Homo sapiens: one gene and its partners. The protein of the gene in region 1 purifies or fractionates together with the protein of each later gene. This does not show direct contact. Each region holds a gene or a part of one and is shown on either strand. Other genes may lie near its edges.

What was found.
Region 2: the proteins of FOXM1 (region 1) and LIN9 purify together in Homo sapiens (affinity purification with western blotting; 2 studies listed by BioGRID and IntAct, with this or other methods). This does not show direct contact.
Region 3: the proteins of FOXM1 (region 1) and USP5 purify together in Homo sapiens (affinity purification with western blotting; 2 studies listed by BioGRID). This does not show direct contact.

The regions. Positions count from the first base shown.
Region 1 is NC_000012.12:2,857,154-2,860,299, reverse strand, and holds the end of FOXM1 (forkhead box protein M1), read left to right. Parts: intron 1-508; exon of another isoform or gene 509-636; coding exon 637-1,662; 3' UTR 1,663-2,620; downstream 2,621-3,146. UniProt on the Homo sapiens protein: Transcription factor regulating the expression of cell cycle genes essential for DNA replication and mitosis. Plays a role in the control of cell proliferation. Also plays a role in DNA break repair, participating in the DNA damage checkpoint response.
Region 2 is NC_000001.11:226,267,492-226,271,242, reverse strand, and holds part of LIN9 (protein lin-9 homolog), read left to right. Parts: intron 1-3,152; coding exon 3,153-3,286; intron 3,287-3,751. UniProt on the Homo sapiens protein: Acts as a tumor suppressor. Inhibits DNA synthesis. Its ability to inhibit oncogenic transformation is mediated through its association with RB1. Plays a role in the expression of genes required for the G1/S transition.
Region 3 is NC_000012.12:6,855,005-6,858,755, forward strand, and holds part of USP5 (ubiquitin carboxyl-terminal hydrolase 5), read left to right. Parts: intron 1-350; exon of another isoform or gene 351-396; coding exon 397-522; intron 523-624; exon of another isoform or gene 625-750; coding exon 751-817; intron 818-1,012; coding exon 1,013-1,146; intron 1,147-1,300; coding exon 1,301-1,446; intron 1,447-1,702; coding exon 1,703-1,887; intron 1,888-2,624; coding exon 2,625-2,719; intron 2,720-3,419; coding exon 3,420-3,613; intron 3,614-3,751. UniProt on the Homo sapiens protein: Deubiquitinating enzyme that participates in a wide range of cellular processes by specifically cleaving isopeptide bonds between ubiquitin and substrate proteins or ubiquitin itself.

The DNA of each region.
Region 1 (3,146 bases):
ATGTTGCTCAGGCTGGTCTCAAACTGGCCTCAGTGTCTTGCAGTGCTGGGATTACAGGCATTGTTTGTTGTTTCTTAACTTTGTTTATGGTATCTCTTGCCACAGTAAAATTTTAAAGTTTTATGTAGTCAAATGTCTCTCTTCTCTTTTACAGTTTCTGGGTTTCCAGTCTTGGTTAAGAAGGTCACCCGCACCCTCAGATTGTATATGTAGTCTCCTAGATTCTCTTTCAGGATTTGTATGATTTTAAGGTTTTCATTTTTTTTTTAAAGCCAGTCAAATTTAGCAGTTGGGGGTTGTGTACCAACTTTAGTGACAATAATGTCACTACCCGCTACCATCAGAGCAGCCTAAGGTTCTTATTTTCATGCATTAAATCTTTGTATACAGTGTAAGACAAGCATGCAATTTTATTTCCTCTCGGATGAATGCTATTATAATTATGCCACTACATACTACATACCCGCATCTTTTACCCCCAGAATTGAACTACCAACTTCAACATACATCGTATTCTCATATTTAATAGATTTTAAGACTTCAAAACGACACAAAGAGGATCAGAACCCGTATGTGATATTTTTGTGCGTCCTGTCTGGTGACCGTTGGTTCACCTTATCTCTGTTTCCCTTTCAGGTGCTGCTAGCTGAGGAGGGGATAGCTCCTCTTTCTTCTGCAGGACCAGGGAAAGAGGAGAAACTCCTGTTTGGAGAAGGGTTTTCTCCTTTGCTTCCAGTTCAGACTATCAAGGAGGAAGAAATCCAGCCTGGGGAGGAAATGCCACACTTAGCGAGACCCATCAAAGTGGAGAGCCCTCCCTTGGAAGAGTGGCCCTCCCCGGCCCCATCTTTCAAAGAGGAATCATCTCACTCCTGGGAGGATTCGTCCCAATCTCCCACCCCAAGACCCAAGAAGTCCTACAGTGGGCTTAGGTCCCCAACCCGGTGTGTCTCGGAAATGCTTGTGATTCAACACAGGGAGAGGAGGGAGAGGAGCCGGTCTCGGAGAAAACAGCATCTACTGCCTCCCTGTGTGGATGAGCCGGAGCTGCTCTTCTCAGAGGGGCCCAGTACTTCCCGCTGGGCCGCAGAGCTCCCGTTCCCAGCAGACTCCTCTGACCCTGCCTCCCAGCTCAGCTACTCCCAGGAAGTGGGAGGACCTTTTAAGACACCCATTAAGGAAACGCTGCCCATCTCCTCCACCCCGAGCAAATCTGTCCTCCCCAGAACCCCTGAATCCTGGAGGCTCACGCCCCCAGCCAAAGTAGGGGGACTGGATTTCAGCCCAGTACAAACCTCCCAGGGTGCCTCTGACCCCTTGCCTGACCCCCTGGGGCTGATGGATCTCAGCACCACTCCCTTGCAAAGTGCTCCCCCCCTTGAATCACCGCAAAGGCTCCTCAGTTCAGAACCCTTAGACCTCATCTCCGTCCCCTTTGGCAACTCTTCTCCCTCAGATATAGACGTCCCCAAGCCAGGCTCCCCGGAGCCACAGGTTTCTGGCCTTGCAGCCAATCGTTCTCTGACAGAAGGCCTGGTCCTGGACACAATGAATGACAGCCTCAGCAAGATCCTGCTGGACATCAGCTTTCCTGGCCTGGACGAGGACCCACTGGGCCCTGACAACATCAACTGGTCCCAGTTTATTCCTGAGCTACAGTAGAGCCCTGCCCTTGCCCCTGTGCTCAAGCTGTCCACCATCCCGGGCACTCCAAGGCTCAGTGCACCCCAAGCCTCTGAGTGAGGACAGCAGGCAGGGACTGTTCTGCTCCTCATAGCTCCCTGCTGCCTGATTATGCAAAAGTAGCAGTCACACCCTAGCCACTGCTGGGACCTTGTGTTCCCCAAGAGTATCTGATTCCTCTGCTGTCCCTGCCAGGAGCTGAAGGGTGGGAACAACAAAGGCAATGGTGAAAAGAGATTAGGAACCCCCCAGCCTGTTTCCATTCTCTGCCCAGCAGTCTCTTACCTTCCCTGATCTTTGCAGGGTGGTCCGTGTAAATAGTATAAATTCTCCAAATTATCCTCTAATTATAAATGTAAGCTTATTTCCTTAGATCATTATCCAGAGACTGCCAGAAGGTGGGTAGGATGACCTGGGGTTTCAATTGACTTCTGTTCCTTGCTTTTAGTTTTGATAGAAGGGAAGACCTGCAGTGCACGGTTTCTTCCAGGCTGAGGTACCTGGATCTTGGGTTCTTCACTGCAGGGACCCAGACAAGTGGATCTGCTTGCCAGAGTCCTTTTTGCCCCTCCCTGCCACCTCCCCGTGTTTCCAAGTCAGCTTTCCTGCAAGAAGAAATCCTGGTTAAAAAAGTCTTTTGTATTGGGTCAGGAGTTGAATTTGGGGTGGGAGGATGGATGCAACTGAAGCAGAGTGTGGGTGCCCAGATGTGCGCTATTAGATGTTTCTCTGATAATGTCCCCAATCATACCAGGGAGACTGGCATTGACGAGAACTCAGGTGGAGGCTTGAGAAGGCCGAAAGGGCCCCTGACCTGCCTGGCTTCCTTAGCTTGCCCCTCAGCTTTGCAAAGAGCCACCCTAGGCCCCAGCTGACCGCATGGGTGTGAGCCAGCTTGAGAACACTAACTACTCAATAAAAGCGAAGGTGGACATGCTGGGCTCTGTGGTTTATTGGCGTCTGATTCCTAAGGCACCAGGAGAGGCTGGAAAAGAAAGAGGGTGTTGATGGAGACGATGGTGATAGGGAAGAGGCAAGGCCTGAAGTTCACCCAAAGCAGCAGTTGGAGCACTTGCACAGGCACACACTTGACAACACAAATTGCCAGTTTTCCCAGTGCTAGTCCTGCACAGCTCACCTCTTTTCCCTGGCGTCTCTGACCTTGTTCCTTGGGACCTTTGGACCTGCTGGTTAACTTAGGCCTTTTGAGGGTTCTTAATAAGACAAGCTCACGAGGGGTAGGGCCCCCTGAACATTAGGGCAGGAAGGGCCCAGTTACAGGTGCTTCATTCCCACTGCCATCCCCACCCTGAGGCCTGGGAGCCAGCCTGCCCTGCTTTTCTTCTGCCCGGCAGCAGCTCCTGTTACAGTTTTTTGCAGTCAGAACTTGAAGAAAGTGCTATCCCCTGCCTGTCTAACCTGAAAAGTAGCCAGGGGCCCAAGGGTCACAAGAGGCTCCAGGG
Region 2 (3,751 bases), on another chromosome or scaffold:
CAAGAGTTTTGACAGATGCACTGCGTATTCAAAGTAATGGAAAATTTGAATAGTAGAGAAGTTTGGAAAAATGTCTAGACATGATACTTTAGCTACAGTATATAGAAAGTTGTTTGAGACGTCATACTTAAGCCACAGTTGTTTACCCCTGGAGAAATGAGAGTGTTAAAAAAGATATTAAAATCATTGATTTGTTAAGAAATTATAAGAATCTGAACTATCCTAAAAGTAATCTTTGTAAAATGAACGATAATTCCAGGTTATCTGGGATTTTCTGTAGGTTATCTAAAGGAGTAAATGGAAAAGAAATAAAAAAGATTTTATTTATCAAATAAATTTTTCAAAAAACAGAAATGAAGAGAATAGGAAAAAAGTACATACATACACAAACCTTTTTTTTTTTTTTTTTTTTTTTTTTGAGACAGAGTCTTGCTCTGTCTTCCAGGCTGGAGTGCAGTGGTACTATCCTGGCTCACTGCAGTCTCTACCTCTCTACCTCTTGGGCTCAAGCAATCCTCCCACCTCAGCCTCCAGGGACTACAGGCACATGCCACCATGCCTGGCTAATTTTTTTGTATGTTTTTGTAGAGATGGGGTTTCACCATGTTGCACAGACTGGTCTTGAACTCCTGAGCTCCAGCGATCCACCCTCTTGGGCCTCCCAAAGTGAGCCACCACGCCCAGCCTACTTTAATTCTTTGAACATATTTATAACAGCTGCTTTTTTAAGTCTTTGCTAAATATCTCTCTCAATTTCTTACTGTACTTTTCTTAAGAGCCATGCTTTCCTACTTCTTTACATGTCTAGTAATTTTTGGTGGAAAACTTGATATTTCAGATAATATATTGTAGCAACTATGTATTCTAATTTTTTGGAGAGTTGTTGGATTTGCTTTAATAACTTGGCTATGCAAATACTGATGTCTCTGCTTCATTTTTTATTCTTATATTTATTATTATTATTAAACTTGATTTCCAAAGAGTTACCCCTGTGTCTGCATATAATTTAGTGGTCAGGGCTGGGTGCGGTGGCTCACGCCTGTAATCCCAACACTTTGGGAGTCTGAGGCGGGCGGATCACCTGATGTCAGGAGTTTGTGACCAGCCTGGCCAGCATGTGACACCCTGTCTCTACTAAAAATACAAAAAAAAATTAGCCGGGTGTGGTGGCGGGCACTTGTAATCCCAGCTACTCAGGAGGCTGAGGCAGGAGAATCACTTGAACCCGGGAGGTGGAGGTTGCAGTGAGCGAGATCGTGCCACTGCATTCCATCCTGGGCAACGGAGCGAGACTCCCATCTCAAAATAATAATAATAATTTAGTGGTCACCTAATGATTTGAACAGAGGTTATGCTCAAACATCTTGATCGGGAAAAGCCTCACATTGATTTATATGTGAGTTGGGGAATGTAAATACAAAGTTGCTGCTAGTTTTCAAGTCATCCTTAGCTTTTACTTTTTGCCAGACTATTGGATCTTCCCCCTCCATTTGCATAGTAACCCAGTTAGCCAGGGATGGTAGAGAGCTTATTTCCGCCCTTTTATGGCTCTCTAGTTTCCATGATCTCCCTGTTAAATTTCTGGCTGTCTTTCATGACCAGTCAAAATTCTGGCTGGTTTTCGTGACCAACCCTGAACTAATAAAACCATTCTCATCGACCACGTTGGTGGTAGTAGTGGGTGTGTGAATAACCTCGTGCAAAGAGGCCACTGAGTCCCCCTGCCCTAACCTGAAGCTCTAGCACTTCTTCAACAATAAACGTTTCTTGTTTTCTACATTTGATCCATTTCCAGTACCCTGGAATGGTTGTTTTTCACAATCTCATTCAGGTTTGTACTTGTTTTTTGTGGAGAGGAATTACCAGCCTCTTCATGCCACCATAACTAGTAGTCCTTTTCTATGCTTATATTTGTTTACTCAGCTTCATTATTTACATCTTCTGTATCCATGTTTACTTTTCCCTTAAAGGATCTGTCAGAAACTGAGAGAGATTTTAGTCCTCTACAGTTGTGTTTTTATCAATTGATCCTTTTATTTTAAACAGTCTTGCATTGTGTATTTCTGTGTTCTATTAAAATGTTGTGTATTATACTTTTTGGTTAGTATAAAATGTATTACTTTGCCCAGTTTACAGCCATCAATGCTGTTGTTCTTAAATTTTTTACTCATGCTGGATGTTTGTTTGGATTTCTCTGATGTTATTTTAGGCTGGACTTAAATAATAGTGACACAGTTCATCTGTGTCATCAGTTCCAAGACTACTAGTTTTGGTGATTCACTAGAAAGACTCAGAATACTCAGCACATGTACTCATGGGTAAGATTTGTTACAGTGAAGGACACAAAACAAAATTGGCAAAAGAATAAGGTGCTTGGGGCAAAGTCCAGAGGAAACCACGTGCAAGTTTTCAAAAGTCCTCTCCCAATAGAGTCATGCAAGACTTTTAATTCTCCCAGAAACAAGTTGTCACAATGCTTATAAGTGTTGTCTACCAGGGAAGCTCATTAGAGACTCAGTGACCAGAGTTCTACTGGGGGCTGAGTATGTAGGCATCTTTTGCCTAGTACATACTAAAATTCCAGTCTTCCAGAGGGAAAGCAGGTGTCCAGCATTAACCACATCGTTTGCACAATCTAGACACAGTAAAACCACCATTATTAATTAGGGAACAGTGGGAACACTTCCGAAATCCAAGTTCCCAGATACCAGACAAAGGCCAACCTTGCAAGGAGGTTTTCCTAAGTATAGCAGCATCAGGCCTGCAGTATTAACTTCTTTAATTATTTTCTACACAACATCTTTGTCTTTTTTTTTAAATTGAACTACTCCTGGTGCTTCACTCATGAGTATAATGACCAAAGTTCTTTTGTTGTTTTTTTTGCAGTTAAATGATTTAAAATATTTTTCTCTTAATTTGGGAGTAATATAATTTTATTCAAATATGAAATTAGGGATCATCATTTATAGTTTTTGTTTTTGTTTCAAAAATTCTTTGTTGTTTCTCTAAGCCAAAAATAAAGTGTGTGCTTGTTTTGAAACTCTAATAGACAAAATACTGTACTATGATTTAAATTACATGCTTGGAACAGTTTTATATTTGACTATTCTTTGTATCTCCCACACATCATAATGCCTTTGTTCTTTTCTCAGCACGATTACGTGGTGTTCATGATGGTTTGTTCACTGGACAAATAGATGCTGTGGATACTCTTAATGCTACTTATAGAGTAACTTTTGATAGGACAGGGCTTGGAACCCATACCATCCCTGACTATGAAGTTCTCGTAAGTAGTATTTCATAATACATTTGTGTTTTATGCCTGTTAAATGTGTTATATAGAGTTTTTTTAGAAATCGTATTTTATGATAGAATCAAGACTTTATCTCACAGAGGAAGAGATCCTTAGGGGACCCCAGCCCTATCTGCTAGACCCCTGGTTCGGATCTATACTTAAGTCTTCCATTTGCCAGGAACTAGCATTTCTCTGTTGGACCTTAACGACACAGCACTTTAGTATAACCAAACTGATGAGTCCTGACTAAATAACCTTGGAGAAGAAGCTACATAACATTTTCATTGCAGCTGTTAGGTTAAAGTATAGTCCTCTTGCAAAATTGTTTTTAAAGTATAGTAACATCTTGTACTTATTTGTTCTCCTGTTTTATCTTCAGAGGCATGCAAGGTGGGTGTTAATTACCTTCACTTTTGCATGATGAAACTCAGACATAAGTACAATTGCGTAATTTAT
Region 3 (3,751 bases), 4.0 Mb from region 1:
AGTATTTGATCCCCATTTACTTTCTGGATCTGTTAGCCCCAGGATAGAGGTGAAGGAAGTCCTCTGTGATTGATTAAAGAGCTCCAAAGCCCAAGAAGGAGCAGGTGGAAAGATAAATGGTGACTGGTGTTGCTGTTGAATGGCGACGATGAGCTGGTGTTCCTCAGCCCCCTGATGTCCTTGTTGGTTGTTATCAAAGTCATGGGAGGAAATGGGGAGAATCTTAGCTATGTCCCAGGTCCTAAAAGGCTAAATAACTTGCCAAGGGCCACACAGTGTTAGAGAACAGAACATTTCTTCTGGAACCCAGCAGTTTCTGACTCCAGGTTTTGGTTTCCTCACCTGACCAGGCTTCATAACATCCTCGTGTTTTCACCCTTACCTCTTGTCCCACAGGAGTCTGAGGGGGGCCTCTACATCTGTATGAACACGTTTCTGGGCTTTGGGAAACAGTATGTGGAGAGACATTTCAATAAGACCGGCCAGCGAGTCTACTTGCACCTCCGGCGGACCCGGCGCCCGGTAGGAGCAGGGCTGGGGCAAGGCCTGGGTACATTGTCTGTTCCATTCTGACCTCCTATTGGACTCAGTTTCTTTTTTTCACCTACTTTTGTGTCATTAAAGCTTGGCACAGATGTTTTTTAGCTTTATTCCGTTCTGAGATGAAGCACTACCTCCTTCCGTCCCTCCTCCCGACTTGTTCCTTCGCTCGTGCTCATTGCTGATCCAGCCCTTCCTGCTTCTTTACAGAAAGAGGAGGACCCTGCTACAGGCACTGGAGACCCACCCCGGAAGAAGCCCACGCGGCTGGCTATTGGTGAGCACCGCTGCAGTCCTATTCTTCTCCCTGAGCTGGTCTTTCTGGCTCTCAGCAGCACCAGGAAAGCCCCAAAGAGTGGGCCTGATTGATGGCCCTAGAACTCTGGATGGGGCAAGTGAGGTGCTGGCTCGGAGGAGGGACATTGACCTGTTGTCATTGCTCTACTCTCCCTCTTCTTCCCTATCCTTCCAGGTGTTGAAGGCGGATTTGACCTTAGCGAGGAGAAGTTTGAATTAGACGAGGATGTGAAGATTGTCATTTTGCCAGATTACCTGGAGATTGCCCGGGATGGACTGGGGGGACTGCCTGACATTGTCAGAGATCGGGTATGACTGCCCCCTATGCTACCCAAGATTCTAGAGCAAGATGGGCCAGGGTAGTGGTGTCTTAGGCAAGCACTGACAAAGCTGAAGGCCAAGGGGAAGAGGGGCATGTGGGGCAGGGGGTTGGGTATTGCCTCTGACCCTCTGCTTCCCCCAGGTGACCAGTGCAGTGGAGGCCCTACTGTCGGCCGACTCAGCCTCCCGCAAGCAGGAGGTGCAGGCATGGGATGGGGAAGTACGGCAGGTGTCTAAGCATGCCTTCAGCCTCAAGCAGTTGGACAACCCTGCTCGAATCCCTCCCTGGTGAGGCCTGGCCCCTCTGCCTCGGGCACCACCCCCAGAGCAAGGACAAGGAGCCCACTTTTCTGGGGGATCTGGTGGGAGAGAGGGTAGGGAGCAGGACAGGAAGGGAAGCTTGGAAATGAACACGACATGGGGATGGCCAGAGGAGAAGAGAGAGAGACCTTGGATTGGCGGGGGGCCTGCAGAGCCCTCTCTCTCTGCCACTCCCTCAAATCCCCGACCCACATTTCTGCTGATTCTCTTCTCTGTGGGTTAGTGGCTGGAAGTGCTCCAAGTGTGACATGAGAGAGAACCTGTGGCTCAACCTGACTGATGGCTCCATCCTCTGTGGGCGACGCTACTTCGATGGCAGTGGGGGCAACAACCACGCTGTGGAGCACTACCGAGAGACAGGCTACCCGTTAGCTGTCAAGCTGGGCACCATCACCCCTGATGGAGCTGGTACAGCCTCCCCTCCTCCAGCCACTCTCATGCTTAAATATATTTCATTTGTTAGTAATTTCGTGTGACATGTATAATACATGAATGCATTATCTTGATAAGAAAGGAAAGTAGTCAGGTGCGGTGGCTCATGTTTGCAATCCCAACACTTTGGGAGGCCAAGGCAGGAGAATTGCTTGAGCCTAGGAGTTCGAGACCAGCCTGGGCAACATAGTGAGACCTCATCTCTCCAAAAAAGAAAAAAAAAGAAAAATTGGCTGGGTGTGGTAGCTCCTGCCTGTAGTCTCACCTACTCAGGAGGCTGAGGCAGGAGGATTGTTTGAGCACCCGGGAGGTTGAGGCTGCAGTGAGCTATGATTGCACCACTGGACTCCAGCCTGGGCTACAGAGACCCTGTCTCAAAAAAGGAAAATACTGCAGATGAGACTAAATTTTTGATTACTCCCCACTCAAATCCTCATCCCTTTCCTACCAAGCCTGTCTTACCTTATCCTATACAGGTAGAATCAGAATCACAAGTAATTCCAACCCTCACCCGGTTTCATCTGTCTTCCCTGACCGTCAGCCCCAGAAGGGCCATGACCGCACTCATATTACTCATATTCAAGGGAACCAAGAGGGTGGACCTTACTGGCTCTCCTTCTGTCCCCTCAAGTCCCTTCTGTGCAAGGGATGGGATGGTGGCCTGGCTAGTCCTGAGCCACTTCCCCTGATTCTCTTCCTGCCTCCTGCTCTAGACGTGTACTCATATGATGAGGATGACATGGTCCTGGACCCCAGCCTGGCTGAGCACCTGTCCCACTTCGGCATCGACATGCTGAAGATGCAGAAGGTGAGACCCCCTTCAACTTCAGATTCTTCTACTTCCTGCCCCTGTGAGGGCCCTTCCTCTTTGCCTGAGGCTGAGGTAGGGTTTTGGAGAAATCTTCTAGTTAACCCCATCCCCAAGATACACAGGCTTCTTTTAAATATCTAAAATCATTTATTCAGTGAATAGTACTGAGTACCTACTATGTGCTAGAGGCTGTGTGAATAAGACAGATGTGGTTTTTGCTTACAAGAGTTCTACTCTAGAAGAAAAGGCAGACATTAGTCACATTCCCAGATAAATAAGTGAATAGTTGCAAACTGGTGGGCACTGTGAAAGAGAGGCGGAGGGTACTACAGTAATTGACAGCAGGGTGGCCTGGCCTAGTTTAGGGATCAGGGACATTTCCCTGAGGAAGCGATGCTTAACTGACAATGTGAAGGAGGTTAGGGGTAACTTAAGGATGGGAAAAACATTTCAGGTAGAAGGAAATTTTATTCCTCATTCAAGCAGAGGCCCTGATGACTAACGGGCCTCTGGGACAATTATGTGTGGCCTTCCAGAACTTGAACTGGACGATACTCAACATACCTCCCATGTTTGAGCCTGTAATTCCACAAATTCTAGGCCACAGTTGAGTATCATCCTAGACTCAGTGAGAGATCGAGGTAAAAACTACAGGGTTGAGTTTCTCACTCAGTCTGAAGTGCCCCTTCTCACACAGACAGACAAGACGATGACTGAGTTGGAGATAGACATGAACCAGCGGATTGGTGAATGGGAGCTGATCCAGGAGTCAGGTGTGCCACTCAAGCCCCTGTTTGGGCCTGGCTACACAGGCATCCGGAACCTGGGTAACAGCTGCTACCTCAACTCTGTGGTCCAGGTGCTCTTCAGCATCCCTGACTTCCAGAGGAAGTGAGTAGTGCCCTCTCCTTCCCCAGGCCCCCTCCTGGTCAGCACCCTCTGGGCATACTCCTCCTTCAGCTTCCCTCAGCACCTCTGTGTTTGATTCTAGTCTTAGAGTAGTTCCTATCGGCTGGGTGTGTTGGCCCA